Regions from separate parts of the Homo sapiens genome. Here all the other regions are linked to region 1. The links come from fine-mapping of genetic effects on plasma protein levels. A gene starts in region 1. Each other region holds a variant in brackets. All regions are shown on one strand. Distances are between the middles of the regions. Region 1 holds the start of NUDT16 (nudix hydrolase 16). Region 2 overlaps LOC107986023 (a long non-coding RNA gene). Region 3 overlaps LOC107986023 (a long non-coding RNA gene).

The links. PIP is the posterior inclusion probability: the model's chance that the variant is causal. The UK Biobank Pharma Proteomics Project read protein levels with antibody pairs (Olink). The fine-mapping took linkage between variants from a reference panel, not from the people measured, so its PIPs are less certain.
Region 2: its variant is fine-mapped to the plasma level of the NUDT16 protein (UK Biobank, PIP above 0.99).
Region 3: its variant is fine-mapped to the plasma level of the NUDT16 protein (UK Biobank, PIP above 0.99).

What each region holds. Positions count from the first base shown.
Region 1 is chr3:131,375,314-131,383,499 of GRCh38, forward strand. NUDT16 (nudix hydrolase 16) reads left to right here and starts at 6,461. Exons shown (of 3, transcript NM_152395.3): 1 at 6,461-6,629; 2 at 6,733-7,002; 3 at 7,849-8,186. The coding sequence starts at 6,492. The coding sequence ends at 8,028. NUDT16-DT (NUDT16 divergent transcript) reads right to left here and starts at 6,162. Exons shown (of 4, transcript NR_038976.1): 1 at 6,020-6,162; 2 at 1,299-1,394. RefSeq lists enhancers at 5,770-6,039, 6,331-6,900, 6,901-7,469 and a silencer at 6,150-6,449.
Region 2 is chr3:130,797,021-130,805,206 of GRCh38, forward strand. All of the region lies in intron 2 of LOC107986023 (a long non-coding RNA gene), which reads right to left. Among named protein-coding and RNA genes, the nearest start is that of PIK3R4, 54 kb to the left of the region's middle. The variant A/G (reference allele first, on the strand shown) is at 3,757.
Region 3 is chr3:130,846,224-130,854,409 of GRCh38, forward strand. It overlaps LOC107986023 (a long non-coding RNA gene), which reads right to left. Exons shown (of 3, transcript XR_001740492.2): 2 at 2,625-2,776. LOC105374108 (a long non-coding RNA gene) reads left to right here. Exons shown (of 3, transcript XR_924486.3): 3 at 362-447. It also overlaps a transcript of ATP2C1 not described here. Among named protein-coding and RNA genes, the nearest start is that of ATP2C1, 44 kb to the right of the region's middle. RefSeq lists an enhancer at 3,959-4,038. The variant A/G (reference allele first, on the strand shown) is at 3,743.

The DNA.
Region 1 (8,186 bases):
AACCAGAGCTAAGAAAGCCATTTTGATCTCAGGCTACTGGCGCTGCATTTCCCACTCTTCTTTCCCCTTGTTACTACCCATCACCCTCCCACCGCTCCACCCCTCCACGTTTTACCTCATTAACTTTGAGTCTGTCTCAGTTTTAGTGTCATTTCCTAAGGGAAGCATTCTTTATACTTTGACCTTCCAGACCAGATTAATTTCACCCATGTACCTTTTCTTCAAGTCACTCATTGCCAATTCAAATCATTCATTTGTATGTGACTTTTTGATTAGTATTTTTGTCCTCATATACTCATCAATGTTCTTGGATAGAAACAATAGAAATCATTGGGTGCGGTGTCTCACGCCTGTCATCTTAGCACTTTGAGAGGCCAAGGCAGCCGGATCACTTGAGGTCCGGAGTTCGAGACCATCCTGGCCAACATGGCAAAACCCCATCTCTACTAAAAACACAAAAATTAGCCGGGCATGGTGGCATGCACCTGTAATTCCAGCTAGTCAGGAGGCTGAGGCAGGAGAATTGCTTGAACCTGGGAAGTAGAGGCTGCCATGAGCCAAGATTGTGCCATTGCACTCCAGCCTGGGTGACAGAGCAAGACTCTGCCTCAAAAAAAAAAAGAAAAAAAAAGAAAGAAACAATAGAAATGGATTATGGTATATTTATGACAAAATTTAATTTATTGGAAAGGTATTAGGAAGCTCACAGTTTTAATGGGAAGCTGGAGAACAAGGATGAGGCAGGGATGAGGGTTGGTGAGGCACAGCCAGCATCTCGCTAGGGATAGTGGGCTTAGGATGCTGCCACCCGAGCCTTCTAAACTGGATACTTACCATTGTGCTACTGGAACCAACACCACTGGCACTCATTACTGGCCTACTGAACCCTTAACTCTGATCATATACCTTGTGTCACTTCTCCAAAATCAACATCCTGAGCAGGAGCATCTCACTGGCTGTGCTTTGGTTATAAGCCTCCTTTCAGTTACCCAAGGGCCAGAGAGGGAATATCTGCCCACTGTTACTTTCATAGCAGAAGAGGGGCTTTGCTTATTAGCATTCTTTTCAATGGCCCAGAATTGGAAACAACCAAAATGTCTCTCAATAGGTGAATTTCCCTGACAAGAAGTCTTTTGTGATAAGCCCCAAATGGCTCTAGCTGGTTGCTCTCTGCTGGTGGAACCTCCTTCCCCTTCTCCCATAGTATATTTGTCTAAATCAGTGGTTCTCAACCTTAGCTCTGCATTCAAAGCATCTGGAAAATCTGATGGGGATTAAGTGGACTGGTTTAAAATTACCTGGCAGATGGTAGATGGTGGTTTGTAGTCTTCTTCCTGCTTAAAAAGTAAGACCAGACCCTTACCTCTCTCTCCCTCTCCTTGACCAAAGGGATTCTGTGAAAGAATTTTGTGAAATGCAAAGTTTTATTCAAGTGTAAATGACAACTTTTACCTTTACTTCATGAGATGCCAAAGATCTTTTTATTTTTAACTTTTTACTATGGAAACATCAAGCTATATAAAAGTAAAAGTAAGCAGAATAACATAAGTCCTTAATAGATCCATCATCACCCAGCTTCAAAAATTATCAATTCATGGCCAATTTTACTATAACTTCAGCCTCTGCCCCTTCATTGAATTATTTTTATCATGTCATTCACAAATGTTTTAGTATGTATCTCTAACAGATAAAGAACCCTAACAAAACAGCCACCATACTATTAGCACCTCAAACAATGATCACTAAGTTTGTTTGGACAAATTAGGAATCAAATAAACCAACTGCTTCAATTGATATGTTTTCTCAATCTCTTAATGTATAGATTCTGCCACCATGCCTTTTTTCCCTTTGTAATTTATTTATTAAATAAATCAGGTCATTTTTCCTTTAAATTTTTGTTCAGTTTATATTTCACTGTTTGTATTCTCCTGATTTAAAACAAACCTATTTTTTAGAAGTTTTACATATACAGAAAATTTATAAAAATAGTACAGAGTTCCCATACACTCTACCTACTTTACCCTATAATTAACATCTACATTATTATAAAACATTTCTTATAATAATAAATCAATTTTGATACAGTATCGTCAACCAAAATCTATGCTTTATTCAGATTTCCTTAGTTTTTCTCTAATGTCCTTTTTCTTCTCCAGGATACCACATTCCATTTAGACATGTTATGTGTTCTTAGGCTCATCTTTGCTGTGAGAATTTCTCAGACTTTCATTATACTTCATGATTCCTATAGACTGAATATTTTTCTTCTCAAATTCTTATGTTGAAATCCTAACTCCAATTGTGTTGGTATTTGGAAGTAGGGCCTTTGAAAAGTTATTAGGTCATGAGGACAGAGCTCTCATGACTGAAATTAGTGACTTTATAAAAGAGACTCTAGAGAGCTCCCTCACCCCTTCTCACACATGAGGTTTCAGCACAAGACTATCTTCTATGATCCCAGAAGTGGACCCTCAGTAGGCACCCAATCTACCAGTACCCGGATCTTGTACTTCTCAGGCCCCAGAACTGGGAGAAATCAAGTATTTGTTGTTTCTAAGCCACCCAATCTGTGGTATTTTGTTCCAGCAGCCCTAATGGACTAAGACAATAACAATTTTGAGGCTTACTGGTTGGGTATTGTGTAGAATGTCCCTTCACTGGGATTTGCTTGGTGCTTTTCTCATGGTTAGAGAGGGATTATATCTTTTTGAGGGAAAACCACAGACAAAAGTACCATTTTCATTACTTCATATTAAGGGTGCATTCTACCAACATGACTTGTCAATGATGATTTTGACCTTGATCACGTGTTCAAGGTAGTGTTTGTCAGGTTTCTCCACAAAGTTACTCCTTTCTTCTCCTGTTTTCTTACTGTACTCTTTGGAAGGAAGTCATTATTCACAACCCACAAGGAGTGGGGAGCTATGCTCCACCTCCTTGAGGGCAGAGTAGCTACATGAATTATTTCCAGTTCTTCTGCACGGGATATTTTTCTCTTCTCCTCCATTTATTTACTAACACATTTTCATTATTTATTTGTATTATCAGTATGGGCCTGTAGATATTTATTTGATACTTCAAGTTATAATCCAATACTACTTATTTTGTTGCTCAAATTCTTTCAGCTTTGGCCACTAGGAACTTTTTCAGCTGGTCCCTGTGTCTCTGTTTCTTTGATATACCTCCATCAGTATCGATTTTTGTCCTTTTTTATTTGGTGAACTTCCTTAATTTCTGGCATCACAAGATGCTTTAGGCTTATTGTATATCCATGTTGCATATTTCCTGGCCCAATGTTAGAATCAGCCATTTCTCCAAAGGGCTTTGATTCCTTTTATGGAAAATGGTATTAGAAACCAAAATGTGGCAGTTGGTGTGTTTGTTGCTACTGGAATATCATTGCTTCTAAGCCCACTCAGCTGACAGAGGAAGGAAATATCTGTGCACACTAACCTTTGTATGTATACATATATGTGTGCATGTATGTATGTGTATATATATAGCCATATCTACATCAAGCTAAAAATGAATTCATACTGATGTTTCAAACTCTAATCTATTACTACATAGATCATTCTAGTCTCTTCCTAATATTTTAAATAGGTATTCCTTTGAATTTCTTATAAATTGTTAGATCAAGATGACAGTTCAATATTTTGGCAGAGATAATCCAAAGGAGGTAGTGTGCTCTTTTATCACAATGTGTATAACAACTGTCTATTCATGATGTTAGCAACCAATGATGATCATTCCCTAGATTCCATTAATTCTTTAAAGTTTAACAAATGTTAAAATTTTGATTGGCTCTGTCCTTCCTCTTTGATTACCTGGAATACTTTGTGAAATAAATTTCCTCTCATTAACTATTTGGTGGCCCTGAGGAAGAGCTCATATAAAAAAGGCAGGATAAATGCTTAGTTCTTTTCATTATTATTTTTAAAATAATAGATTGGTTTTCTAGAATCTTCCCATGCTGACTACAGAGTTATTTTTGGTTCCAGGTACCATTATGAACTTGGAACAGCTCTTTAGGTACATGGCTCAGCCCTCTACCTGCAGCCTTGAGTCCTGGGCATTCTGCCTTAGGATAGTGGAATGGGGGATGGTTGGTGGGGGTGGGGCAGAGGCAGAGAAGGATTTGAAAGGGATGGCAAGGTTGGGGGCTCTAAAGGACTTCCATATTCATCATATTCATCTAGAAAAAGCTCTGGTCTCCAAAATCATGAAAACTCGTACAGCTGTTGCCTTGGTTTTACAGTTTTTCATGTTGCCTTTGAAATCTTTGAAGTCATCTTGAAAAGTCCATCTTTAAAGTCTCAAGTAACCAGGAAAGAAAGAACAGCTTGAAGATCTGGAAAGGGCATGTTTGATCCTAAATCATTAAAGGTAGCCTATCTAGGAGAAAAACCAAGTCGCCTTTGGAATGCTAGTGGAAGGGGGAAGGCCCCGGTTCTCCACCCTGGTTATTAGTTACCTAAAACATATTTTAAAAACCGCATATGTCCCTGTAGGACCCCATACATTCTGATTCAACTGGTCTGTGGTAGGAAAAAGTGGCAGCTTTTAAAAATTTTTAGAAGCTTTTTGCGAGGTGACTCTAATGTTAAAGCAGGGCTATTTCCAAACCCCCTGGAACTCTAGCAGGCCAGTGACAATTGTATCACACCTACAGACTCATCACTTTAATGCAGTTGCTTCATGTTATTAGATAATATCCCTGCCCCACAACGCAGAAGACTAAGCTAGGAAAGATGATGTCATACAGCTCATCCCTCCTTCAAACACTGGAGCGTGATGAGTGCAGCTCAGTTCCAACACTTGGGTCTTTATTTATTATTATTATTTTTTGTAGAGACGGGGTCTCGCTATGTTGCCCAGACTGGTCTCAAATTCATGACCTTGAATGATCCTCTCACCTCGCCTCTCACAGTGCTGGGATTATAGGTATGTGCCCAGCCCTGGCTCCTCAACGTAAGACATAGCACTGTGCCCCAACCCTCAACTCCAAGAATGGCTACATTTACTTTCTGCCTGGCACTGTTCTAAGTGCCTAACATATCTCAACATCCCTAATAGGTTGGTATCATCTCCACTTAACAGATGAGCTGCTGGGATCTGAGAGAGTTAAGTGACTTGTTAAGGTCACAAACCTGTTTCTGGGTGGGTCCGGACTCTTTCCCACCATATGCCGTCACTTACAGGCTGTGAGTTTATGCCCAGCCCCCCTCAAGGAGCTGCCTCCTGCTTTCTATTGCATAATCAATATCGACACCTGGTGTAGGGGCGCTCTGCAGGGTGGGGAAGGCCTGGCCTGGAGTGAGGGATCCTGCATCTCAGCATCAGGCCCTGAGTAGGCCTCTGCCCTTGTGGTAGGGTAACCCACCCTCCTTCATAGCTCAGAGGTCTGAGGGGGTTTGAGGGAAAGACTAGAAAGCCTAGGAGGCTTCTTCTATCTCTCACCCCTCCTCACTCCCAGTCCTGTGCCACAGGATTTCACTCACAGCTCCTTCCACCCCCACCCTTCCCCTGAAAATCTCACTGCCCTGTGACTTCTCTATGTGCCACTCCCTGTGCGTCAGACCCCCACGATCAGCTGCCCACTGCCTATGGCCACCCCAATTCCTTAGAACTACACTTATCACTGCTCACCCTTCTCCTACTCTCCCCCTCTCAGAAAATGACACCACATCCAGGAAACTCGGAACCACCACTAGCCCAGCGCTCCCTCTTCCCCATTCACTCAGTCACCAAGTCCCCTCAATTTCACCACTCAAGATAGTTGTCAGACCATGGCGCCTGTCCATCTCCATTTCCCTAGGATAGGCCTTGGTGTCTGAGGCCAACCCTGCCTCATTTCCTCCTAACCCCCACCCAGGCCTTGTGCTTTGTGTACCACCACACCCAACCAAAGGTAGTTATTACTTCTTTGGCTCCCAGCACTCAACTGAGCGCCCCAGCTCTTCCTCACCTGCCGGGACACTCCAGCTGACTCCAGATTGCGACGCAGGCGTTTACGTACCAGCCTTTCTCCAGGTTCAGGGCGCTGCCACATCTTCAGCCCCGACCCGCCGCAAGTCTCATTTCCTCCTAACCCCAACCCAGGCCTTGTGCTTTGTGTACCACCGAACCCAACCAAAGCTAGTTCCCTGACTTGCTCTTTTGGCTCCCAGGAGCCTTTAGGTACCGGCCTTGCGCCAGGTTTAGGGCGCGGCCACACCTCTAGCCCCGCCCCACCGCAGGCCCAACCCAGAGGCTGCTTTCGGTTACCCTAGGGTTCCTGGGCCCTGGACTTCAACCCGGTCTGCAAGCCCCGCCCTGATTAGCTGCCTCCCGCACCGGTCGCGGCGCCCCGCCCCCAGGCGCCTAGGTTCCTCCCCTTATCCCTGCAGGGATTGGGCCTTGCAGCACCGCCCAGGCTCGGATTGGTCCGAGGTGAGACCCGCCCCTCTGCCCATTGGGCCTTCGGGACAGCAGAGGAGCAGTGTCCGGCCATGGCCGGAGCCCGCAGGCTGGAGCTAGGCGAGGCCCTGGCGCTGGGGTCGGGCTGGCGTCATGCGTGCCACGCTCTCCTCTACGCGCCGGACCCTGGGATGCTCTTCGGCCGCATCCCGCTGCGCTACGCCATACTGGTGAGAAGGGGGCGCGCCCGGCCACTTTCTGCCTGAGCCCCGCACCCTCTCTGGTGGTCTCCTCTGGGGCGCCCCTGCCAATCCCCGCTTCCCCCTCCCGCAGATGCAGATGCGCTTCGATGGACGCCTGGGCTTCCCCGGCGGATTCGTGGACACGCAGGACAGAAGCCTAGAGGACGGGCTGAACCGCGAGCTGCGCGAGGAGCTGGGCGAAGCGGCTGCCGCTTTCCGCGTGGAGCGCACTGACTACCGCAGCTCCCACGTCGGGTCAGGGCCACGCGTTGTGGCCCACTTCTATGCCAAGCGTCTGACGCTCGAGGAGCTGTTGGCTGTGGAGGCCGGCGCAACACGCGCCAAGGACCACGGGCTGGAGGTGGGACCAGCCTGGGACTCTGTCCCTTTCCCAATTTCCTCTTCTCCCAAAGCTTTCTCTCCCCCAAGAAAGCATCCCTGGAGAAAAGTCTTTGCCCCTCTGACCTTGCCCTCTCCCCAGCTTTCTTGGTGGAGTTGGGATCGTGATCATCTATACTCTGAATTAGTACTGCCAACCTGGGCTTTCTGTAAAGGTCTTTCCCACCCTTTACCAGGAGAGATCCTTTCTAGAACACACTCATCCATGTCTCTCTGCTGTTCCCTATTGACAGTGTGATAGATTATCACATTATCTAGGTGTGGCAACCTAGGTTTTATTCTTGGGGTTTGCTTTTCTTGTGTAGGAGATGTGGCCCTGATATTTCAGGCAGGGCTAGTAGATAGATTATGTATGAAGGTGGTTCTCAAAATTTGGCAGGTAGCAGAATCATCGGGGCGTCTTATTAAAATAGCGATTTCTCTCAGCATTCCTGCATTGGTGGTGGGGCGGGGGGAGAGGAAACCTGAGAATTTGTAGTTTTCAAAAGTTCCCAAATAATGCTGATGCAAATAATCTGAGGACCACATTTTGACAACCACTGGTGAAAGGGTATGAATACATCTTTGAGGCAGTAGCCACTAGAGGTTTAGAAGCAGATGTGGGAAAGATTAATTGATAGAGCTAGATAATATGTTTTGGGTCATTTTCCTGCAGAAGGTTGGGCCACTAGGCTTTAGTGAGGTGTGAGCCTTGGGCCTGGTTCTGCTGGAGTATTAAGGGGTGAGGCCTGATCTGCTGGAGAAAGGATGGAGTTAAGGGAATGAGCCACCTGGGGCCCTAGTGTCTCCTGTCTCCTTCCTTTTACAGGTGCTGGGCCTGGTGCGAGTGCCCCTGTATACCCTGCGGGATGGTGTAGGAGGCCTGCCTACCTTCCTGGAGAATTCCTTTATTGGCTCTGCGCGGGAGCAGTTACTTGAAGCTCTCCAGGACTTGGGACTGCTGCAGTCTGGCTCTATTTCAGGCCTTAAGATTCCAGCTCATCACTAGAGGCAGCCCTCCATGGACCCATGAAAACTGAGATGAGGACCTTGGTACTAGGGAGGGAGGGAAGGACGTGGGAATGTTTTCTTATTGGATCTGAGAGATGATACATGATACCAGATGAAAAGAAGGAGAAGTGTGTACCATATGTTTTGAGCAGAGGA
Region 2 (8,186 bases), 580 kb before region 1:
GTCCATTTACATTTAAAGTAATTATTGATAAGAAAGTATTTACTATTGTCATATTGATAACTGTTTTCTGTTTGTTGTTGTTGTTGTTGTTGTTGTTTGTTTCTTTGTTTGTTTTTGAGACAGAGTCTTGTTCTGTTGCCCAGGCTGGAGTGCAATGGCGCGATCTTGGTTCACTGCAAACTCCGCCTCCCCGTTTCAAGCGATTCTCCCACCTCAGCCCCCTGAGTAGCTGGTATTACAGGCACCAGCCATCATGCCTGGCTAATTTTTTTTGTATTTTTGTAGAGACAGGGTTTCACCATGTTGGCCGGGCTGGTCTTGAACTCCTGACCTCAGGCGATCTGCCTGCCTCGGCCTACCAAAGTGCTGGGATTACAGGCGTGAGCCACTGCACCCGGCTCATGGTTTTTTTGTTCCTCTTTCTCTTGCCATTTTTTTATATTGCTAGGTTTGGGTTCCTTTCTCTTTTTCTTTTGTGAACTTCTATAACTATTTTATTTGTGGTTACCAAGGGCCTGATATAAAATATCTTATACTTTGATAGTCTATTTTAAGCTAATAACAATTAACTTCCCTTGCATGAAAGAACACTCTGCCTTTACCTCTCCTCCCCCTGTGTTATATGCTATTGAAGTCATAATTTGCAACTTCTTATAGTATATATCCATTAACTTTTTTAGTTATAGTTGTTTTTAATATTTTTGTCTTTTAATTTCCATAGTAGGATTATAATGGATTTACCCACTACTGTTATGGTAATAAAGCATTCTCTTTTTTGTCTTCTTTGCCAATGAGTTTTATACTTTTTAATGCTTTCACACTGCTGTTTAGCATTGTTTCATTTCAACCTGAAGAACTCCCTCCAAAAGACTCCTAGATTTGATTAATAATTTCAGTAAAGTCTTAGATTAAAAACTCAGTGTACACAAATCAGTAGCACTGTTATACACCAACAACAACCAAGCTGAGAGCCAAATCAAAAACTCAATCTCAATTCCTTTTACAACAGCTGCCAAAAAATAATTAAAATACCTAGGAACATATGTAACCAAGGAGGTGAAAGATCTCTGCAAAAATAACTACAAAATACTGCTGAAGGAAATCATACATGACACAAACAAATGGAAACACATCTCATGCTCATAGATTGGAAGAATCAATATCATGAAAATGACAATGCTGCCCAAAGCAGTCTGCAGATTCAATTCTTCTCAAAATACCAACATCATTTTTCACAGAATTAGAAAAAAAATCCTAAAATTTATATGGAACCAAAAAAGAGCCTGAATAGCCAAATCAATCCTAAGCAAAACGAATAAATATGGAGGCATCACATTACCAGACTTTAAATTATTCTACAAGAGTATAGTTACGAAAACAGCATGATACCAGTATAAAACTAGACACATAGACCAATAGAACAGAATAGAGAACCCAGAAATAAAGCCAAATACCTACAACCAACTGATCTTTGACAAAGCATTAAAAAAATATAAATTGGGGAAGGGAAACCCTATTTAATAAGTGGTGCTGCAAAAACTGGCTAGCCACATATAGAAGAATGAAACAGGATCTCTATCTCTCCACCTTATACAAAAATCAACTCAAGATGGCTCAAAGATTTAAATCTAAGCTCTGAAACCATAAAAATTCTAGAAGACATCCTAGGAAAAACTTTTCTGGACATTGATCTAGGCAAAAAAATTCATGACTAAGACCCTGAAAGCAAATGCAACAAAAACAAAAATAAATAAATGGGACCTAGTTAAACTAAAATGCTTCTGTACTGCAAAAGAAATAATCATCAGAGTAAATGAATAATCCACAGAATGGAAGAAAGTATTTGCAAACTATGCATCTCACAAAGGACTAATATCCAGAATATACAAGGAACTCAAACAAATCAGCAAGTAAAAAAATTCCATCAAAAGTGGGCAAATTACATGAACAGACATTTCTCAAAAGAAGTTATACAAATGATCAACAAACATATGAAAACATGCTCAACATTGCTAATCATCAGGGAAATGAAAATTGAAACCACAATGAGATACCACCTTACCCCTGCAATAATGGTCATGAAATAAAACTCAAAAGACAGTAGATCTTAGTGTGGATGTGGTTAAAGTGGAATGCTTATACACTGTTGGTGGGAATGTAAATTAGCACAACGTCTATGGAAAACAATATGAACATTTTTTAAAGAACTAAAAGTAAATCTACCATTCTATCCAGCAATCCCACTACTGGTTATCTATCCAAAGGAAACGAACTCATTATATCAAAAAGACACCCGCATATGTATGTTTATTGCAGCACAATTCATAATTGTAAAGATATGAAATCAACTTAAATGCCCATTGACCAATGAGTGGATAAAGAAAATGTGCTATATATACACCATGGGATACTACTCAGCCATAAAAAAGAATAAAATAATGTCTTTTGCAGCAACTTGGATAGAACTGGAGGCCACTATTGTAAGTGAAGTAACTCAGGAATGGAAAACTAAATACCATATGTTCTCATTTATAAGTGGGAGCTAAGCTATGGGTATTCAAAGGCATACAGAGTAGTGTAATGGACTTCAGAGACTCAGAAGGAGGATGGTGGGAGGTGGGGTGAGCTATAAAAACTTCATATTGGTTGTGGCTCACGCCTGTAATCCCAGCACTTTTGCAGGCCATGGCGGGCAGATCACGAGGTCAGGAGATCGAGACCATCCTGGCTAACAAAGTGAAACCCCATCTCTACTAAAAATACAAAAAATTAGCCGGGCTTGGTGGTGGACGCCTGTAGTCCCAGCTACTCGGGAGGCTGAGGCAGGAGAATTGCTTGAACCCGGGAGGTGGAGCTTGCAGTGAGCTGAGATCGCGGCACTGCACTCCAGCCTGGTTGACAGAGCGAGACTCCGTTTCAAAAACAAAAACAAAAACAAAACAAACACTTCACATTGGGTGTAATGTATATTACTTGGATGATGGGTGCACTAAAATCTCAGACTTCACCAGTATGCAATTCATCCATGTAATCAAAAATCACTTGTACCTCAAAAACTATTGAAATAAAAAATATTTTTAATAAAGAAAAAGAAAATAAAAGATAGTCAAAGTAGTAGAAATAGTTCCTGCCTTATGGCTACAAACTGTAGAGAAGCCATTAAAAGGAATATTTCTACAGTTTGTTTAAAAAAAGAAAATAAAAGAAAAAAATTGTTATTAAATACACCTGTGATAGGAACCAGGCCAGGCAATTTTACATACAATATTCACTGTATTATCACAATAACCTGTAAGTACTGTTATTCATATTTTCATGTAAAGAGACAGACTAAGTGAAGTTAGGAAATTTACTTAAAGCCATTTGATGAGAGAATGTTAAGACTTTTACCTTTGTAGTTCTGAAAATTATCAGTTATAATTTCTAAACTTCTTTCTGTTTTGTTCTTGATTTTATTGTAGGGCTACTCAACTATTTGAACACATTATGATCCCATATTATGCATACTGTATTCCCACAACATTTGCAATATTCATAAATATTAAGAGACCCGAAAATGAAACCAAGGCACAAATAAACCTATTAACGTACTTTAGTATCTTTTAAAGTTTTGCTCTCACCCCACAAAGGTTATTCTTTCATGAAAAATATATCAGATACAGTCTCTGAAAGAAAATATAATTACCATTGAAATCAATGTTACACGATTAGTTCAAATATTAACAAAGAAATGTATAGTGGTTCTTGATGTATTTA[A/G]TATTCAAAGATTAATTAAATATTTACTGCAAGAAAATAGATAAATGATTCAATGAAAACAAAGCAAAAGGTTCATGTGATTGCCAATTCTGTTTCTTAGCAAACTATGTGTATCCCAAGAACTAAATTTAAATCACCTTCAGTCAATCATGCAATAGTGAAGTTAACCACATGGTTGCTTTTAATTTTCTAAGACAAAGAACAAAATCCAAATGAGTCACCTGGTGGTATTAAATCTCCAAAAGCAAATACAAAAGAACAGGAGGCAAATATGTAAAGAATGTAAATTGGCCAGGCGTCGTGGCTCATGCCTGTAATCCCAGCACTTTCGGAGGCTGAGGTGGGCAGATCACTTGATGTAAGGAGTTTGAGAACAACCTGGCCAATATGGTGAAACCCCCGTCTCTACTAAAAATATAAAAATTAACCGGGCGTGGTGGTGCGAGCCTGTAGTCCCAGCTACTCGGGAGGCTGAAGCAGGAGAATCGCTTGAACCTGGGAAGCAGAGGTTGCAGTAAGTCAAGATTGTACCATTACACTCCAACCTGGGCATCGCGGAGAGACTCCGTTTCAAAGAAAAAAAAAAAAAGAATGTAAATCATATTAAAAAAATGGACATTATTTTTTAAAAAGTCCAGCAATATTAAGTTAAAATGATAGCTATTTAGTTAATTGTATTAACTATATGTTCAGTTGAGAATAATTCTACCTTATAGTGGCTATCTTAGATTTCATGTCATACTTATTAAATTATAATTTAAAATGGACGCTACATAAATAAAATATGCTTTGACTTATTAATTTTAAATATTGTTATTTTAAGCATTTTTGCTAAAAAACAATAAAGTGAGACTAATAAGCAAAACAAATTGTGGCATTTATATAAAATGAAATATTATTAGCCTTTGCTAATGGAGGAGATCCTGCCATTTGCAACAACATGGATGAGCCTGGAAGATATTATGTTAAGTAAAATAAGCCAGACACAGAAAGAAAAATACTGCATAATGTCACTTACATGTGAAGTCTTAAAAAAGTCAAATATATAGAAACGGAGAGTAGAATGGTGTTTACCAAGGGCAGAGACGGGGAGAAAATGGGCAGATGTAGGTTACGGGGTACAAACTTGTGGTTACATAGGATAAATAAATCTAGAGATCTGATGTATAGCATGGGGGCTATAGTTAATAATACTGTATAGTATACTGAAAATTTGCTAGAAGAATAGATTCTAGCAAATTTTAAAGATAATTATTTGAAGTGATAGATAAGTTAATTTGTTTGATTGCAGTAGCAATTTCACTATGTATGTATATATCAAAAGATCACTTTGTACATGAAATATATACAATTTTAAATAAATAAATGCCTGCTAGGAAAAAAAAGAAATGAAAAGTAGATTCACATGCCCAAGTTGTTCAAAACTTACTTAAAATTTTCAAATAACTCAATCAAGTATCAGTTTTTAATTTAAGTGAATTAAAATTAAATAAAATTTAAAATGTAGTGTCTCAGCTCCACTAGCCATATTTCAAGTGTTCAACAGCCGTATGTGGCTATTGTGTTGGACATCGCAAATGTAAATAGAGGTATTATAACTGATTTTTTTTTTCTGAATAAGGGCTATAGTTCACAGAACCATTAATTATTTTAACATTTATTTCCTTTTTGGAAAAAATTTTGTATTGACCTTCTTAAAAGCATTTGCCTCCCTTCCAACAAGAAAAATCATTCAATAATCACTGGGATTCACGCGGGTCAAAATGGCCTGGGGGGATCCAATAGATGGAGTACCAAACTCCTCTTAAAGTCTTGAATAGATGGATACTAAAAGAAGATTTTTGTGAATAAAATATTCCCATATAAAAAGAGAATAAATTCTTTTAGAAGCTTTTTCTGAGGGAAGTGGAAAAATCCAATTAACTGTTTTTATATCACCAGCTGGTTCCTTGGAGCCGAAAGAAATAACACCTCCCAGGAGTGAACATTTATTTCACTTGTAGTCAGAAATTCAGTCGCCCTGCTTCCCTCAGAGATCAGGCTGCCTGTTAAACAATATTGATGGTAATTAGGATGACAAATAACAACAAGTAATAAGGACACAAATTCTTACCCTTGCAGCTCTTCTCTAATCTTTATTTAATTTATCTATGTGTTTTCGGTACTAATGAGATTTTTTAAATCTATCTCAAATTGAGGCTCACTTTCTTGTCTTTTGAGAGTGTGGTGCTTCATGATAGTTCCATGATGCTAAAAATAATGATGATAGCTTCTATTTTATTTTAAGAATTTCCATTTTCCAGTGCCTAGTATGCACCAGACACTATTATAAGCATTTCATAATATATTAAACTATTTAATGCTCACATTTACTGAAGAAAGTAGAGGTTAAGTAACTTGCTCAAAACCATACAGCTATGATCTTCATAGTCATTATTTTAGATGGGGAATTTGTTATTGAATACTATGTGCTGCTTCCTAATGACACCTTTCCACACATACCCCATTCATTTGCCTTCATTCATTCCTTCCTCCCTCCCTTCCTTTGTTTCCTCCCACTCTCCTTACCTCCCTCTCTTTCTTCCTCATTCTATGCCTTTTCTCTCCACTTCCACTATTCAATCTATCACACAAGAGTGTGTCTTCACCACCCAAAACTGCTTTTGTTGAGGTCACAAGTGACTTCATAAATGGTAATCTCAAGGGGCCAGCTTTCAGTTGCCTTGAAAATATCTTCAGCAAGTGGTCTCTTAAACATTCTCACCTCTGGATTTCTAGGGCACATTCTCTCACCTGATTGTCTATCCATTTTCTCCACACTCCTAGTCAGTCACCTTTGCTGTGCTCCTTCTGTTTCATCTTCCCCTTAAAGGTAGGTTTCACAGATTTTCTTTTATTCATATGTGTATTAGTTTATATATAACTGTGTATATAACTGACCAAACAATCCTCTCTTCTCTACCAACACTCATATCCTGAGTGAGCTCATCTAGTCTCTTGCCTTTAAATAACATGTATAAACTGCCAACTCAATCTCCATTTTGGACTGAATTAAAAACTTACATACTCACCTGTCTTCCTGACATCTCCACGTGGATGTCTATGAGGGATCCTCAACTTAGTATGTCTAAACCTAACACCAAACAGCACCCCCATCACTAGCACACACTTAAAACCAAACCTGCCTCACCTTTTCCCACACCTAAGTTACCAAACTGGATTAACTTTATCTTATGGATTTCCATGAATTTGTTCCCTTTCATCACTATCCTAGTTCAAGCCATTGTTGTCTCTTACTAGGATCAGAATTACAACCCCCTAATTGGTCCCTGAAATGCAGTCATGTGACCTCATCCTTCTAGTTCCATCTTAACTCTTCAGCCCCATCTCTGGTCTTTTTTTCACTCACATTCTATGCTTCTATAATACTATAATTATTTTTTCAGTTTTAAAAATATTCCAAGACTGCTCTTGCCTCTGCACCTTCAAATATGCCATTTCATTTACCTGGGAGGCTCTTCCTTATTCTTTTCTCTACTCATCTTTACCGGGGCACAATAAGAGCACCTACACATAAAGATCTTTGAACAGTGCCTGGTAAAAAGTAAGCACTTTTTACTCAATATCTTTTACCATAAGTATTATTTTCAGAGATATATATAATTCTCTTTACAGGCCACATAGTCCATCTAACCTGTCTGCTTCTGTGGGCATTTATGTTGTTTCCAATCCTCGGCTATTATAAACTATCCTTATGCACATGTAATTTCAAATATGTCTTGGATCAGTTCTCTGGAAACAGGGAGTTGTGTGCAAAATACTTATTGGAGGTACTCTTAAGAGATACATGGCAGGAGAGGAGCCAAGATGGCCGAATAGGAACAGCTCTGGTCTACAGCTCCCAGCATGAGCAATGCAGAAGACGGGTGATTTCTGCATTTCCAACTGAGGTACCGGGTTCATCTCACTGGGGAGTGCCAGACAGTAGGTGCAGGACAGTGGGTGCAGCGCACCGTGCATGAGCCGAAGCAGGGCAAGGCATCGCCACACTCGGGAAGCACAAGGGGTCAGGGAATTCCCTTTCCTAGTCAAAGAAAGCAGTGACAGATGGCACCTGGAAAATCGGGTCACTCCCACCCTAATACTGTGCTTTTCCAACAGGCTTAAAAAACAGCACACCAGGAGATTATATCCCGCACATGGCTCAGAGGGTCCTATGCCCATGGAGTCTAGCTCATTGCTAGCACAGCAGTCTGAGATCAAACTGCAAGGTGGCAGCTAGGCTGGGGGAGGGGCGCCTGCCATTGCCGAGTTAGTTGTTTGATTAGGTAAACAAAGCGGCCAGGAAGCTCGAACTGGGTGAAGCCCACCACAGCTCAAGGAGGCCTGCCTGACTCTGTAGGCTCCACCTCTGGGGGCAGGGCACAGAC
Region 3 (8,186 bases), 530 kb before region 1:
TTTGAAAGTGAATTTTGGGAAAGTAAAAATACACCATCTGCAGATGTAGGATAATTATTCCCTATGTGGTGAGGGCACTAAGAAAATGTACTGTGAAGTAGCAGAAGTGCTTTAATCATGCAATAAGGTGGAATCTGGTGCTGCATAAACTTGCCCTGATGAGCAATATTAAATGCCTCCCATTCCTCTCTTGATTGTATTTGATGCTGTCCTTAGGGGAGTGTAAGACTGGACCAGTATCTACAGATCTAGTGGGATGAGAGTGATTTCTCAGTAGAATTCATAATAATAAATGATTTCTGTTTTCTGAGCTAGCAGCTTCTCCATCATCCTAACTGCCGGCCCTTCACTCTGTATCCAGGCTGGATTAATTCCCAGAGAATGGAGTCATTTTCCTGATGGGAACTCTTAGCACTGATTGGAAGGAGGAGATTAGCGGGCTTTTCATTTTTGTCCTGATGCAATTTGAAAATCTCATCAATTCAAAGGTATCCTGGAGACACTGTTTCTCAATTCTTGTTTCATGTTTCTCAACCTGTATTTAACCCTTGGATCCAATTCTTTCTTCTTTGTCATTCTCTTTCAATGAATATGCATTGGTATATGTTAACTTAACACCTACTGTGTGCAATGCACAGTGCTAGATGACTTCACAAACCTACATTTTCATCCTATCTTCTTTAACATTTGAAAAAGAATAAACTGTAAAATATCTTTCTGCTCACTCCCTTACCACTATTTTTCCTGGTGTTGGCTTTGCCTCATTATGTTGCTTTTCAAGTGAAGAATTTGGGATTCCCCATACTTTAAGCCATTTGCAAAAAAGCAGATTATTATTAGAAAGCACAGAGAACACACAAATATCCTTTCATTGTGGGATTACAGCCTTAACCTATGACTTTCCTGGATTCATGGTTTCTGTTAGTTATTTTTCTATCGAGGACGAGGGGTGGGAGTGAGTTCTGCAAAATAACAGATAACTGCTTCCACTCTTTTTTTTTTTCTTTTTCTTTTTGAGACAGAGTCTTGCTCTGTCACCCAGGCTGGAGTGCAATGGCGTGATCTCGGCTCGCTGCAACCTCTGCCTCCCAGGTTCAAGTGATTCTCCTACCTCAGCCTCCTGAGTAGCTGGGATTACAGGCACACACCACCACGCCCAGCTAATTTTACTATTTTTAGTAGAGACAGGGTTTCACCATCTTGGCCAGGCTGGTCTTGAACTCCTGACCTCATGATCTGCCTTCCTTGGCCTCCCAAAGTGCTGGGATTACAGGCGTGAGCCACCGTGCCCGGCCTGCTTCCACTCTTTATTGTGCTACTTTGCAGAGGGCAAAATATACCTCATATACTTGTGGAAGAAACACTGGGCCCTTCAGTCCTTGCAGATATAGATTGTAGCCACCAGGACTCTGGTCAGCTGTCTTTCATCAAGGCACCTGAGCCACAGGGGCAATAAAAAATGGCACGCCTTAAAAAAAAAAAAAAAAAAAAAAGGGCACTTCTCCAAGCTGTGATGGCAGAGATGTCCATACTGTAAACTTAAGGAGACTATGCCTACCACCTGAGAAACAGGGTGCATAAATTCCCACATTCATATTTTATTAAATATAGACGGACCATTGAAACCTATGTCAAACAGAAACTGAGATTGTAGTAGTTTTCAAAAATTGGGAAGCAGAATATCTGTATCTACAAATACAGCTTCTTTTTAGCATCACCAGAATCATTTCATAAAGGAATCTTTAAGAGGTAGGTAATGATATGAACATTATTTATAGAGAATTCAGGACAGGAGGTTGTATGATTGTTTGAGAAGACGTACTTGCTCTCCAATCGTAGTCTGCAAATTCCTAGCCATCTGTATTTGTATTTCTCTCTCTTTTTTTTTTTTGGAGACAGAGTCTTGCTCTGTTGCCCAGGATGGAGTGCAGTGGCACGATCTGGGCTCACTGCAGCCTCCGCCTCCCAGGTTCAAGTGATTCTCTTGCCTTAGTCTCCCAAGTAGCTGGGATTACAGGCACGCACCACCACACTCAGCTAAGTTTTTGTATTTTTAGTAGAGACGAGGTTTCACCATGTTGGCCAGGCTGGTCTCAAACTCCTGACCTCAAGTGATCTGCCCGCCTTGGCCTCCCAAAATGCTGGGATTACCAGTGTGAGCCACCATGCCTGGCCTGTATTCCTCTTTAACAAGGTAACACCATGTCTTTCCTTCTTCAAGTTAATAGGTCCTTGAGAATTCATTTCTGGGAGTGGGTTAAGTGGTTCTGCAGTATACAGGTTGGATACAGATACTGGAGTCAGGTTTACCTGGTTAGAATCCCCTTCGCCTCTGTTTTTGCAGCTGTGCGACCTCAGCAAATTGTTACCTTCTCTGAGCTTTAGTTTACCCATATGTTACTGTAGGATTACATGTGATAATACATGTAAAGACTTTAGCACATCACCTGGCCAAAGGGCCCAATTAGTATTAGATACGATTTATATTCGTTATCAATTAAATTCCTAAAGGAATTTTAATTGAATTTGTTTCACCCATTTTTCTTTTTTGTGCTTAATCTAATAGAACAGTTTTTGTTTGGGGATGCTGCATTTCTCCCTCCCCATTTCTTTTCATCACTCACCTCAGCCCCAGAAAAAGTGATCCTGAAACAACTGTGGAAATGAAGTCTGCTTTGTGTTCGTCTGTTGGGAAAAGATTGGATCACCAGTCATGCTGTGGGTGTTTAGCAGGCTGCTGGCTTCTGCCCACAATAAAGAGGCATCTCTGAAGGTTCTGATATTTTTAAAAAGAGAAGCAAAAGGGCAGTTAGTGGATCTCAAGGGTTCGTATGAACGACACATTTCCCTGCCCCCACAATCCCTAGGGCTGCCTCTCTTTCCAGGGCTTCAAGTTGGCCCAGGGTATCTGGCTTTCTATACTTCTTGTTTTTCTGGGTCATGAACTGGCAGGGAGCATGCAGCACTGTGCCCTTAGCATTCAGGTGTTTCACAAGCACACTGCTTCTCTCTTGCCCTCATTAGAGTCAGCTGTCTCCAGCATACAGAGAAGGACGTGCAGAGCCTCTGTATGCATGTAGCATGGTGCACCTGGAGAGGTGACAGAAGGGCAGGGCCTCCTCCTAGGAGCCAGCTCCAGTAGCAATATGTAAATGACTTCTTGGAATTGCCAGGCTGGTCCTGGTGAGTCTGGAAGATCACCTTGCTAGTGGGCCCAATGCCAACCTGACAGATGGCCTGGGCTGCTTGCAGCACAACCAGGTTTAGGCCATCAAGTGTGTTCCCTGAAGGCAGGTGACCCATCCAGGAGTGTCAGGGAGGCTGTCCAGGGGGACAACTAAGGCTGCAATGTAATTTCCCCAGCTCTGCCTACCTCCTCTTCCCCGCAACTTGCAGTGCTCTCTAGGAAGAGGGAAAAACCAGGGCTTGCTTTCACCCTTAAAGAAAACTCTGGGTCACATAATTTTTGTTGATGTCCAGTCTGTTTTCTACATGACAGCCCCTCACAGAAGTGACCAAATGTTTCCATCAAAGGAACCAGCTACTGTAAAGTTTAAAAGGATAATAAAATAGTAATGTCTATTTGGGGCCCTAGTTTAGAAAAACCCTGTGATCTCTATAAAGTATTAAGAAAATATTGAACTTTCAAATTTTATGATTTCATGTCCTCTAAGACCACAGACCTCTTGGCATTATTTTTCTTTTGTTCTTTTTTTTTTAAGCATGAATCTTTTTTTTAATA[A/G]GAGTTAGAAAGTAAACATAAAACATTTTCTCTCACTTACATTCATAGTTTTTAAAAGCCTAGGGAAAGTTAATGTTTCTGAATTCAGCCTGTGGATTTGAGATAAGGATTCAAGGAGAGAAGGCTTTTAACTCAGAACAGAATCTGTTTGCAGCTATTGTTCAATTAATGTAAAGTATCTGGTTACTGGGCATGTTGCATAATGCATCACAGTGCAAGCCAAACGTTTTCAGTGCTGACAACGAGCTCCTTGATAACAATGAAGAGTGAGGTAATTTGTTAAATTTTTTTGGAAGTCCCCTATAACAGTCTTCTCAAGACTGAATGAATCAACACTTTCCAGCTCAGACCGCAACTGAGCTGTGTGTCTGTGTGTGCGCATGATGATAAGAAATCTAGAAGGAAACTGGGAAAACCACATCTCATGCCCTGTTTAAGAACTAGAAAAAGTGTCAGAAGAATTAAAATTAAGCCTCACGAGAGTCTGTGGGTATGGAAAGTCACCAGCTAGCTAATATTAACATAGCTTGCAACAGAACACTGTTGCTAGAAATAGGACAGTCGCATCACTACCACTAAGCAATTTGCATTCTGTGGACCAGCCCCTGAATTCCTATTGCCCTTTGGGCATTGCATTTCTGGACGCTTCTAGACAGTGTTCATACTTGGCTGTCTGGTTTCACCAGGAACTCTACCCAAAAGAGGAAACAGCAAGGAGAACATTTGCTTTGTTTGTAGGAGGGAAGTTGTCGAGCTACAAACAAATCTTTAGGCATCTGAGGAATTGCTAAGTTTCTAATTTCATATGGTTGCTGACAAGGAGGTGCAGACAAGGACCCTCTTGCTTTCCTCACTATGGATAGTCTGTTGCCTCCATCTAGATTCTCTTATTTCAAAAAATATCCTCTCCATGCAATTAGGAGATATTTATCGACGCTGAGAAACCAAAGAGCCGAAGAACAGGTATCATTTTGTTTATATTATCTTTAAAATGAACGGGTGCTTGTTCCTTGTTGCTTTTACGTCGCTTAGTGATTTCATTTGTGCTGGTTTACATGTTTATAGGTACAGGTCAGATCCTGCTTGTGGCTGTTCAGACTTGGCAATCAGAAAGCAAGCAGGCTTGTGAGAATTTATTTAAACTTGGAACATTCAGATCCTGAGATTAAGCGGAGTTCTGTAATGAAGCCACATGCTTTCTTTCTTCTAAAGAGCTACTCTATCAAAGTTAAATTTTGAATTCTTTGATCATTTTCCAATGCCTCAGATACAAAATTTGACACTATTAATATCTCAACAAAGAAAGTATCAGACCCTAGAAGTACACTTGTCTTCTTGTATTTATGGTTATGTTTACATAGCCAGAATTTGCAAAACAAAAAACATTTTATAAACTATAATAACCTTAAACAGATCATTAACAAGCTATAAAGATCATTCAGAAGCAGTTGGTCATTTTTGTGTGTGTAAAAGGTAGGAGGTAGAGCACTGCCATATTCAGTCTTTTTAGCCAATCAAAAGCTATGATTTCCAGCAGGAGACACTATCACTTGGGAATATAAGCATTTTTAAAACTGTTAAAATGTCTGATCACATCTCATTTAAAATCATGCAGTCATTTTTATGGTGTGAGATTTATATCATTCCATTTCTTTGATCTCCAAAAAAGACATTTCTAAAAATGATTTTTATGAATTTTACCAAATTGTTAGAAGAAGTAGCAATATCTGATCCATTTAAATCTAGTGATTCATTTAGGAAGAAGTGTGGCGGTGGTATACAAATGTGAAGGACAAATGTATAGCCATACCAAAGACCCAGCAGTCATAAATTGCTTGTGCATTGTGCTTGTAACTAGAACTGCAAAACTATGCAGGAGATATCACCAGTGTCCTGTATTTTTTTCTCCTTTGTGATATGAGATGACCCACTTAATAAAACACTTCCAGGAAATGCAAGATAGGTTTAGCAGACAGAAAATCCTCTCATGACAGGTTTCCCAAAAAGGCAATGCATAATTTGGAAAATAAAAATCATTGCTACTGTTTGAGAGGAAACTGCTTGTATGCCCTGCTTTAATAATTTTACAAGGGCCAGAAATTCAAACAGACTCTGTTCACTAAGGGAGCTAGGCTGGTCCAGTTTATCTTACTTAGGCAAGGTGTCACCATTAAAAGACCAACTTTTGGTTTCCAAGTTTCAGCCTGCACTTGCTTTTGATGTAGAAAGCTAGAGAACCAAGTGGTAGGGCTGTATAAGTTTTTGTTTGCCAATCTTTTAATGTTCACGGGCTTCTTCAGGCCTCATTTATTATGGAAGGAAGAGAGGTGGCTGAAAGGATGGGAACACAACTGTGGAATGTGAATTGAGTGATTTTTTTTTTCTCAGTATTGTAAGTTTTCAGAGATGTGGCTATATTGCTTGTGTAGTTCTATGGTTCTTTGTTTTTAGTTTATTGAAGAAGTATTACAAAATGCATTCAGAAGACCATTAGAATTTAACATAAAACCTCTGACTTGGACAGGGTGGGTAGTCCCTTCCCCAGTGTACAACCATTTGGGACAACCTAGGAACAGCTGGGAGTGAGTATTATGCTGAGTTCTTAAATTCTTATATAAGTGAATTGAATAATTAAGAGAAATAATATATTTGATTTCTTTTTAAAGCCAACTACAGCTCTGCAGACCTAATGTCTCACAGAATTAGAGAAATTAGGTCAGAGTTCATCATAACTAACCTTGAAAGCTTGTTGGGAAGTTATAAAGGAGGTTAATAATGTCTACAATCTTATGACCTGCATATTTGTTGCCTCTAATCCTTACATTCTTGTATAACTAATCCTTGATATAAAAGTGAAGGGATTGAGACTTAGAGCCCTTAAGAGCCCTTGCCCATGCAGCTAGAAAGTACCAGAGGAAGATGTGAATTTCTATCTCATGGCTTTAAATTTTATTCATTTTACCACGCTTGATCCCTGAACAATCTAGTAATAGCAAAATATCACCCTGCTAACTTTTCTCCTTGAGAGATTTCTAAAATTTCCTATATTCACATAGCACTGTCATAATTTTTACTGTTTACCACATCTGTATGATTAATTCCTCAATATTTTTCTGTATTTGTACTTAAATCACATTATTAGAGTTTATTTAGAAAAAAAGTTCATATCATGACTGTAAATGGAAAACCATTGTCATTAGCCGTAAGTAAAAATAATTAATAAAAGCAAAACAGTATTAAATTCTAGGTAGATACTATTGCCTGTAAAACCTCCAAGCCTGAAACCTGCTCATTTGTTAATAAGGAAGATTAGCTTTTAAGAGAAAGGTTAGAGCATCCTAGGAGCCAACTGAGAAAGTTTCCTGGGTGAGGATGGAAAGGAATTAAAAGGTAGATAATGTTTTTCAATCCAAAATGATTCAGTGTTATTGAATGTAGTGTCTGCATGCCACTTAAAATCTTCTCCCACCTCACTTAGCGCTGCTAAGTACCAACCATGTTGACTTCCACATACTTGGGGAATATTATAACAGAACACCATCTGCTTCTTTACTTTTGCACATTTAAATGAACTCCCCCCTCTAGCCTAGAATTCTCTCCTTTACTTACAACTTGCCCTCCTGGAGGTCTCCTGTACATCCTTCAATACTTGGATTAAATGGGCTCAGTGAAAAGCTTTCTCCAGTGCTGCTGGGAAGAATGAAGTCTTCCTTTTCCAAGATATTTTGTTTGCTTCAGACACAGCCCTTACTACATTCTATGTAGTAAATCATGTGATTTCATGTCGATATTCGTGCACCCATGCACACATGACACTGGATGTTATCTTGTTCTTTGTTCCCTGAGGCATACTGGAGCCTGGCAGATACTGGTGTAAAGGTGACCCACACAACAGGCAGAGGGTACACACTGGATTGACTGTGACACAGACCTCCTTTGTTGTTTTTACTAGGCCTAGAAGTTCCCCATACCCCTTTTCTGTGGTCCAAATTATGATCATTGTTACACTCACCTTGTTCACATATGCTTTATTGTTTAAAACTTCTCCTAGTGCTCTTCTCGCACTTGGTGTCATACAGACAAGAAGATTTGACATGAGGGTTGATTTGTTTGGTAGCTTTTTCTGGTGGTGGTAGTGTTATTCCTGTGATACAGCCATCAATAGGTTGGTAGGTTATTTATCAAATTGAGAACAAATATTTCATCCTTTGCTTCCCTAGATTCTCTTGCAGCAAGTGTTTCACAAAGCCAAATCCCCACATATGTAGAAGATTAACAGCATTAATGAGATGAAGATGCTGAAGGTTGGGAAAATTTGTTAACCTTTCTCTCAGAATTATTCAAATGGTGTGGTAGTAACAGTGGTGGTGGTGAACGTTGGGCAGCCTGAGCCTAAATGGAGTCTCAGATGAGTTTGAGTAGGTGTGCTGAACGCACGCATAAG